Regions from separate parts of the Homo sapiens genome. Here all the other regions are linked to region 2. The links come from fine-mapping of genetic effects on gene expression. A gene starts in region 2. Each other region holds a variant in brackets. All regions are shown on one strand. Distances are from middle to middle.

Region 1 (2,763 bases), 22 kb before region 2:
TGGTAACCACCAGCCATATGAATATTTACATTAAGTAAAATTTAAAAGTTTAGTGCTAAGTTGCATTAGACACATTTCAAGTGCTCAATAGCTATCATTTCTAATACTGCAGAAAGCTCTGTGAAGGATTTGGCATAGAACATGTAGTAGGCATTCTTATCAATACTTTCATCCAGTTTATTCAAACATTACTGCTATGGTTTGACTAGTAAGTTCCCTTGGAAATCCCAGTGTTGCTAGTGTGATCGTATCAAGAGGTGGGGCTCTTAAGAGGCGACGAGGCCATGAGAGCACCTCCCTCATGAATAGGACTAAAGCCCTTTTTATAAAAGAGGTTTCCTGTAGCTTTCTGCTGTCACGTGAGGACATGATGGTCCTCCCCTCTGGAGGTTGCAGCCCTCTCCTGGCCTCTGGAACTGTGAGAAATAAATTTCTGTTTCTCATAAATTACCTAGTGTGTGATATTCTGTTACAGCAGCACAGAACAGACAAAGACATTCACCTTTTGGAAAATGCAACACACTTTGTAAAAAATTTCATCTTATAGTAATACTCCACGAGATTCCCTTGAGCATAGACGTTTCCGCGTTCTGCTGCTTCTCTTAAGCACTGCAGGGCAGCTTCCGTATCCTGCCGGATGCCTTGTCCATACAAGTACATGAGCCCAAGTGCACCCTGGGACTCCAGATTCCCATTGCCACATGCTTCGGAATGCCAGTAAAATGCCTAAGAAAAGCACAGTTTCATCATTGTATTTGTGATCCACTAGATGAAATTATAAGGGAATACTAGACAGAAAAGAACTCTGTGTTTCCTAGATAGCACTATTAATCATCTCTAGGAAAGAGCGGTAGGCCTTTGGACGCATTTCACACTAGCACACATGCCTAACACAGTGTGGAGGCGAGTTCCTCCGCTGTCTGTCCACAGTGCAGGTGAGATCACAGTCCAGGCAGCTTATGGCAGAGGAAGACCAGCTGTCCTAGGTTTCAGGATTTGGGGATCTTCAGAGTAAGGATCAGGAAGATGCCAAATAGGAACTCAGTGTCTGAAAGGCGTGAGGCACAGCAGAGGAGGGGA[A/G]ACCACTGATGCTAAGGGAGAGTTCGAGCTCCCGGTGGATTCTAGAGATAGCAGCTGCTGCGATCAAAGACAACCCAGGATAAACGCTGTATGTAGGCTCAAGCACATTTGCCTCATACTCTGCTACAGTGAATTTGAATTCATTTAAAAAATTCCAGATGGCTGCTTATCTATCCAAAGATGGCCTTAGTTGTTATGTGTCTCTTGCAAATTTGCCATTAACTCCTCTCTCACAAGTAGGACTCAGCCCCCATTTCCTTCTCCTTATAGGATTTTTTGGAAACTGTTTCAACCATTGATGAAAGAGATTATATTTCTGTGAAAATCTTAGATGGATTTTATTTGTAACTAATTCTTGGTATATTTTACTTATTAGTATCAATTTCTCAAGTCAACGGTAATATTCATCTGTTCATGCTTAGAAGGATTTTGGCTGTAATTTCAGGACTGTTTCTCTTCTTTTAGCTTTGATACTATAGTATACAAAATACTCTCACATTCATGGTTTCCTTCGGTAGAGGTAGGGAAGGGGACATTTATAAATAAAAGGGCTTTGAGATCCTAAAATGTATGCTTTCTTTACATTTAAAGGAACTATAAGAGATATTTAAAACGACATTCCCCACCATTTTCTCAAAAAAAGCAGTGAAACAAATATTAATCTAAATATAACACTAGCATTAAAAAAGAGGGAACGTTACCTTTTCTAACTCCTTGGGCTCCTTGGTTGAGTAATACAGCCCGAGCATACTTTGAGCCTTCACACTAGCTTTGGGATTTCCATTGTCTGCTGCGATAAGCCACAGTCTACAAGAGAAAGTGAGGCATGTTATTCTCGGTTTCAGCATTTCCTTCAAACCTAATCTTGTTCTCAGGTAGGATTACCTTTCAGCTTCCTCATTTGATCGTTTAACACCTTTTCCTTCATAATAAGCTCTTCCGAGGTTGTAAGCAGCTGCAAATTTTAAGTGTCTTGCTTTGGGACATGGAGAATCAAGAATTTTCTTCATATAGTCCACCCCTTTCTCCTTCGACAAAAGAAAGAGCAAAAAAACCCTAGTTTTTAGTTTTACCCAAACTGAATTTCTTTCTCCCAATAAGGCTGTGAAGTGTCCGCCCTCTGACACGATGTATAATACTATGAATCTGTGCCCAAGGGGTACAATTGTCCTGGATTCTGCAGGGCAAGCGATAAGGAGGAAAAGAATCTCTAAAAGTACATCTCCTACTCAGGCACTCCCAGGAGCTCTGGGATATAAGAAATTTCCTTCCTTTTACAGCTGCCTGAGTTGATTTAAGTCTCGATATGGGCTTCCTTTTTTCTCTCCTCCCTCCCATCTAATAACCCTTATCCTGAATCAGCACAGTTCTTAGAACTGGCTAAAGTGGAAGAATGGCCAGGAACAGCTTTCACATTTATAATTCTTACGATACACTTGCGAGCCCCTAACAAACACCGTCTTCCATTCAAGCATACTTTTACTGTGTGCTCATAGTTTGTATCTAATATACAAATCTTATGCACTAATACGACATCTGCTACGTGGTCACAAGGAAAGCATAGAAGATATTCTAACCACTAGCAAGAACAGATCTGTACCCTCCACCCCCAAATCCATCAGACACAAACCTTCAAACATCACCCAAAAGAAGAAAATAATATTGGACAATCAAATATATTTT
Region 2 (2,733 bases):
GATTCAGCCCACACATCTCTCATCTATTCGGTCACTTACTCATCATCCAACGTTTTTTTTAACACTCGCTGTAAATGGCATCCTCGTTCTGGAAACGCATCTACCAGCAATTAAAACATGTAGAATTAGCACTGCTTAGGAGAACGCCTATAAAATATGCATCTTAGATCATCTTCCGTTTTAGAAAATTGATCCCACCTGCTACACGCCTGGTGAAACTCCAGTTACTTGCCAGTAAGATATTGTCCCCCAAATGTACTTATCCTGTTTTTGTGCATTATAAGCTTTGTTCAGTTTATAGTTTCTAGGCCCATTACTAAAGTCAAGTCAGATATCCAGCTGAGATACAACTTTTTTTTCTGAAAACAATGTGAGCAATGGACAGGTACGCTGTGATTAAAGGGAGAAAAGCTGTAACGACTCCCCAAATTTCCTTTCCTTATGAAATTTACGTATGTAACAGGAAGTTAAAAAATAACTACCACTTAATGCATACTGAACAGAATCTTGTTTCAAAGAAAAGATATGAAATATGGAGGCACTTTCACCACACAAATATCCCACTACATATGCTAACTGCAGTATTTATGTTCAAAACTGTAAGAACGTGTCTGATACCCTTTATTAGTTAGGAATTCCTGAAAATGAACTTCTGTGCAAACCTGAAGCTTCAACACGTGTTTTAAAAAGCAGTGCTTATTGAATTGATAAACAAAAGCGAAACTGGCAATATCAACGTGTGCTCACCTCACAAATCTGACAACAGTATCTCTACACTGCCGTTCTTTAAACATCATTAAAAGATATTGTGAATAGTTTAAATATTAAAAATGTGGAATATAAGAACGATTCTATATATTTGAACACACATTTATATTCAAATATTCATATGAATAAAAATGCTTAAAACTACCCCTTGGGTAACTAAGTATAACAACATAAACTTGCGATTGCAAATTTTATGGCTCTTACTACAAAACAAAAAGTAGAATGAAAAGACCACTTATCTTTAGAGGACAAGCATGAACTTGTTTTCTAACAGCATAACAATAAACGTATTTATTTCTCCGAGCTTTCAAAGGCATCAACAGAAGGGAATCACTAAAAATGTAGGGGAAAAGAAACACTCGGCTGGAGCTTTGGTTTCTAAGCAGATCCTTCTGGAAAGACGCTTAGGGAGAGTCTAGGGAGCAGCTCTGACGTCAGTAGCTGCCATCGGAAGTCAGGTCATGTTCTACAAAAAGCAGTGACGCACGCCCGACAGCACCCGCGGGGCCGGACAGCGGCTTCACCAGCCCCGCGGGTCCGAATCGCACGCGGCCGGGTCCGCTCTCCCGGGAGGAGAGCCCGGCGTGGACCAGCGTGACGACCCCAGCGTGCTGCGGCCTCTCCCCGAGGGCCCCTCCACAAGGGTCCCTGCGCGGGCCGGGCTCGGCCGTTGCCACTCGGGACAGCCATCCCCTCGAGTTCGCGCTCGCCGTCCCCGCCTTCACCTCCCGGGTTGGGAGGCGGGCGACTGCGCGCGAGGTAAAGGAACTTGCGTTCCCCGGCGCCGAGGCGGCAGCAGCGCAGTGCACAGCGGCTTCTGAAGGCGGCGTCGACGGGGAGCTGCGCGTGGCTCCCAGTTTCCTGGTTACGTGCGCGCCGGCAGAGCCAAAACCTGCAGCCGAAACTCCCGCTTCTCCGTAAGGATTAAAGGGCGGGCGCACTACCGGGAGACGTGTCAAACTCAGCGCGCCTCATGGCGGCCGCGGAGCCCCACCCGCTCCTACTCCAGTCCTCTCACGCCCACTGACTTACCCTGCGCACGCGCGCTGAGGCTCCGTGGGGCCGCCGCGGGCCCCGCCCCGAGGTGGGAGGGCCTGACGCATCCACAGCTGGCCAATCGGCGGATGGCCTCGCGCGCCCGCCCCCTCCCCCTGCCCCCGGCGCCGGGCTCCACGTGCCAGTGTTTGTGTACGTGCGGCCGTGGCGGGGCTGGACAGGGTCCGGGTCGTTGAGGATTAGGCTGCTCGGGCGTAACCGGAGCTGGGGCGCGGCTGCCAAGGGCCGGCCCGGAAGTCCCAGCGGTCTTTAAATTCTCCCGTGCTAGGGCCAGCCTGCGCATTCTTACCTGTCGGGGTGCGGCGAGTGTCTCACCTCTCTGCACTTCCAAGGACTCTTGTCATCTGCCTTAGGCGGGAAATGCTGTTGCTGGATTGCAACCCCGAGGTGAGATTCGGGCTCACAGAGCCCGAGCTTTTGTCCTGCAGGCTCAAGCTTCTAGATTCGTCTTCTCGTTAATGCGGGGACGGACCACTGGGCGCTGCCTGGTCAGAGCTGGTTGTGAAGGGCGGGGAGGTTTCCAGCCCGGAGGGGCGCGGGACTGGACAAAGGTGGGAAGGGTGCTGGATCTGTTCTCTTCCTGCAGGTGGATGGTCTGAAGCATTTGCTGGAGACAGGGGCCTCGGTCAACGCACCCCCGGATCCCTGCAAGCAGTCGCCTGTCCACTTAGCCGCAGGAAGCGGCCTTGCTTGCTTTCTTCTCTGGCAGCTGCAAACGGGCGCTGACCTCAACCAGCAGGTAACTAGGTAACTGTTGCTGTGTACAGCCGTCCCCTCCAACCCAGACACACACAAACATTTCTCAGACGCCAAGAGTTGTTTCAGCTGTTAAAAACATGTCTATAGCAGCGATGTCCAACAGAAATATAATGCAAGACACAGATGTAATTTAAGAGTTTTTTTCCAGTC
Region 3 (2,763 bases), 48 kb before region 2:
GGACTCATCCATCCTGTCATCTTAGTTGTAGATGATTCATTTTCGTTGCTGTGAGAGGTTTTCATCGTGTGAATACACTGCATTCCAAATTCATTCCGTTGTTGATGAGCCTTTGGCTCCTTTCCACTCTGAGGCTTTTACAAAGGGTGCTTATATAAACGTCTAGTACTTGTCTTTTGACAAATATCTGTCGGCTGATGCCCAGAGATTAGGATTTCTCCATTTTTCTTCATGGTCACAGCAGTTTTATACTCTCCCCAGCAGTGTGTAAGGGTTCTGATTGCTCCACATCCTCACCAACACTTATCTTTTGCGTTTTTATTCTTAGCCATTTTGGGTGTAGTAGTATCTCATTGTGTTTGGGGGGTTTGGTGTTTTTTTTTGTTTTCTTTTGTTTTGTTTTGTTTTGTTTTGTTTTGAGACGGAGTTTCGCTCTTGTTGCCCAGGCTGGAGTGCAATGGCGCGATCTTGGCTCACCGTAACCTCTGCCTCCCGGGTTCAAGTGATTCTCCTGCCTAAGCCTCCCAAGTAGCTGGGATTACAGGCGCCTGCCACCACGCCTGGCTAATTTTTGTATTTTTAGTAGAGACGGGGTTTCTCCGTGTTGGTCAGGTTGGTCTCAAACTCCCAACCTCAGATGATCTGCCCACCTCGACCTCCCAAAGTGCTGGGACTACAGGCGTGAGCCACTGTGCCCGGCCATTTGTTGTGTCTCCTTTTCTATTGTGCTGCTGCTCATCCTTTCCATAATGTTTTATGGGTTTGTCCATGTTCTGGATCTGAGTTCCTTGTCAGATCTTACGTGCTACAAATATTGTCCCCCTTTCTATGGATTGCCTTTTACTTAATGATTGCTTTTAATGAACAGATGTTCTCAATTTTAATTTAGCCCACTTTATCATTTTTTTTATCTTATGGTTAATGCCTTTTGCACCTATTAAGAAATCTTGGCCTACTCCAAGGCCCTGAAGATATTTTCTTAATTTCCTTTAAACACTTTATTATTTTCTATCAGTCTGTTTTTAAATAATAAGGCCAAAGGTGTACTGTCCTCAATAACAACCACTTTTTTTTCCTTTGCTGCACCATCTATATTCAGAGTATAATTGTTAATCACACTTTGGATCTTAAAGCCCTGAAGTTCTCAGAGGCATGGAACTTTGCCTCATAAAACATGTTTTGCCTCTGCAGTAGAAGCTAGACATTCTGAGACTGAAAAAAAATGTTCTGAATATTTGTATCCTTTAAAGAATTCTTTAAATTGACATTGCACTTGTACATATTTATGAGGTACAGTTTGGCATTTTGATACATGTATATCATTTCTTTATTTTTTTTTTTGAGACAGACTCTTGCTCTCTTGTCCAGGCTGGAGTGCAGTGGTGCAATCTCAGCTCACTGCAACCTCCGCCACCTGGGTTCAAGCAGTTCTCCTGCCTCAGCCCCCCAAGTAGCTGGGATTACAGACAGGCTCATGCCACCACACCTG[G/T]TTAATTTTTGTATCTTTAGTAGAGACGGGGTTTCATCATGTTGGACAGGCAGGTCTCGAACTCCTGACCTCAGGTGACCAATCTGCCTCGGCCTCCCAGAGTGCTGGGATTACAGGTGTGCGCCACTGTGCCCAGCCACATTTATCATTTCTTCGTGGTGAGAACATTAAAAAACCTTTCTTCTAGCTCCTTTTTGATATATAATACTTTACTGTTAGCCATAGTCACCCTACTGAGCAACAGAACACCAGAACTTTTTCCTCCTGTTAAATTGTAACTTTCTAGCCACTGACCAATCTCTCCCATCCTTTCCTCCCCAGTCTCTGGTAACCACCTCTCTGTACCTCTAATATATCAATTTTTTTTCAGATTATACAGATGAGTGGGATCATGCAGTATTTGTCTTTCTGTACCTAGTCTGTTTCACTCAACTTATGTCCTCCAGGTTCATTCATGTTGTTGCAATTGACAGGATTTCATTCTTCTTTATGGCTGAATAATATTCCATCATGTATATCGGGGGGTTCGATCTTTTGGCTTCCCTGGTCCACAATGGAAGAAGAAGGATTGTCTTGGGCCACACATAAAATACACTAACCCTAACGACAGCTGATGAGCTTAAAAAAAATCACAAAAAATTCTCATAATGTTTTAAGAAAGTTCACAAATTTGCATTGGGCTGCATGTAGCCCGCGGGCTGTGGGTTGGACAAGCTTGATGTATGTATACCACGTTTTCTCTATCCAGTCATCTGTTGGACGCCTAAGTTGATGCCATGTCTTGCCTCTTTATTATAAATAGTGCTGCTTTAAATGGGAATGCAGATATATCTTTGACATACTGATTTCATTTCCTTTGGATGTATATCCAGTACTGACATTGCTGGATCTTATGGTAGCTCTATTTTTAATTTTTTGAGGAGCCTCCATACCCTTTTTCATAATGACTGTACTAATTTACAATCCCACCAACAGTGTACAAGGGTTCCCTTTTCTTTCATATCCTTGCCAACACTTCTTTTCTTTTGTCTGGTGTGAGATGGTATCTCCTGGCTTTGACTTATATTTCCCTATTCATGAGGTTGATCATTTTTTCATATACCTGTTTTCCATTTTTATGTTTTCATTTGTGTCTATTCAAGTCCTTTGCCCACTTTTTAATGGGATTATTGTGTGTGTGTGTGTTTTGCTGTTGAATTGTTTGAGTTGTTTTCCTTCATTTGAATATAATTTAAGGCCAAAGATTTACATCTGTAATGATTTCCCTATTAATA

Direction of the effects. Alleles are on the strand shown, and positions count from the first base shown. SD is a standard deviation of normalised expression in the study named. Not every link is listed here.
As copies of G replace A in region 1, the expression in sun-exposed skin of the gene that starts at base 1,185 in region 2 goes up (small effect, 0.20 SD a copy in GTEx).

What was found. PIP is the estimated chance that this variant, and not a neighbour inherited with it, causes the effect. A credible set is the group of variants that fine-mapping cannot tell apart.
Region 1: its variant is the best candidate, but not a certain one, in a credible set for the expression of LRP2BP in sun-exposed skin (GTEx, PIP 0.78).
Region 3: its variant is the best candidate, but not a certain one, in a credible set for the expression of LRP2BP in caudate (GTEx, PIP 0.59).

The regions. Positions count from the first base shown.
Region 1 is chr4:185,372,354-185,375,116 of GRCh38, forward strand. LRP2BP (LRP2 binding protein) reads right to left here. Exons shown (of 9, transcript NM_001377440.1): 5 at 1,966-2,108; 6 at 1,782-1,887; 7 at 503-726. It also overlaps a transcript of SNX25 not described here. Among named protein-coding and RNA genes, the nearest start is that of LRP2BP, 22 kb to the right of the region's middle. The variant A/G (reference allele first, on the strand shown) is at 1,081.
Region 2 is chr4:185,394,740-185,397,472 of GRCh38, forward strand. LRP2BP (LRP2 binding protein) reads right to left here and starts at 1,185. Exons shown (of 9, transcript NM_001377440.1): 1 at 40-1,185. It overlaps ANKRD37 (ankyrin repeat domain 37), which reads left to right and starts at 2,102. Exons shown (of 5, transcript NM_181726.4): 1 at 2,102-2,211; 2 at 2,411-2,563. The coding sequence starts at 2,185. RefSeq lists silencers at 1,308-1,497, 1,718-2,087 and an enhancer at 1,618-1,687.
Region 3 is chr4:185,347,070-185,349,832 of GRCh38, forward strand. All of the region lies in intron 13 of SNX25 (sorting nexin 25), which reads left to right. Among named protein-coding and RNA genes, the nearest start is that of LRP2BP, 47 kb to the right of the region's middle. The variant G/T (reference allele first, on the strand shown) is at 1,490.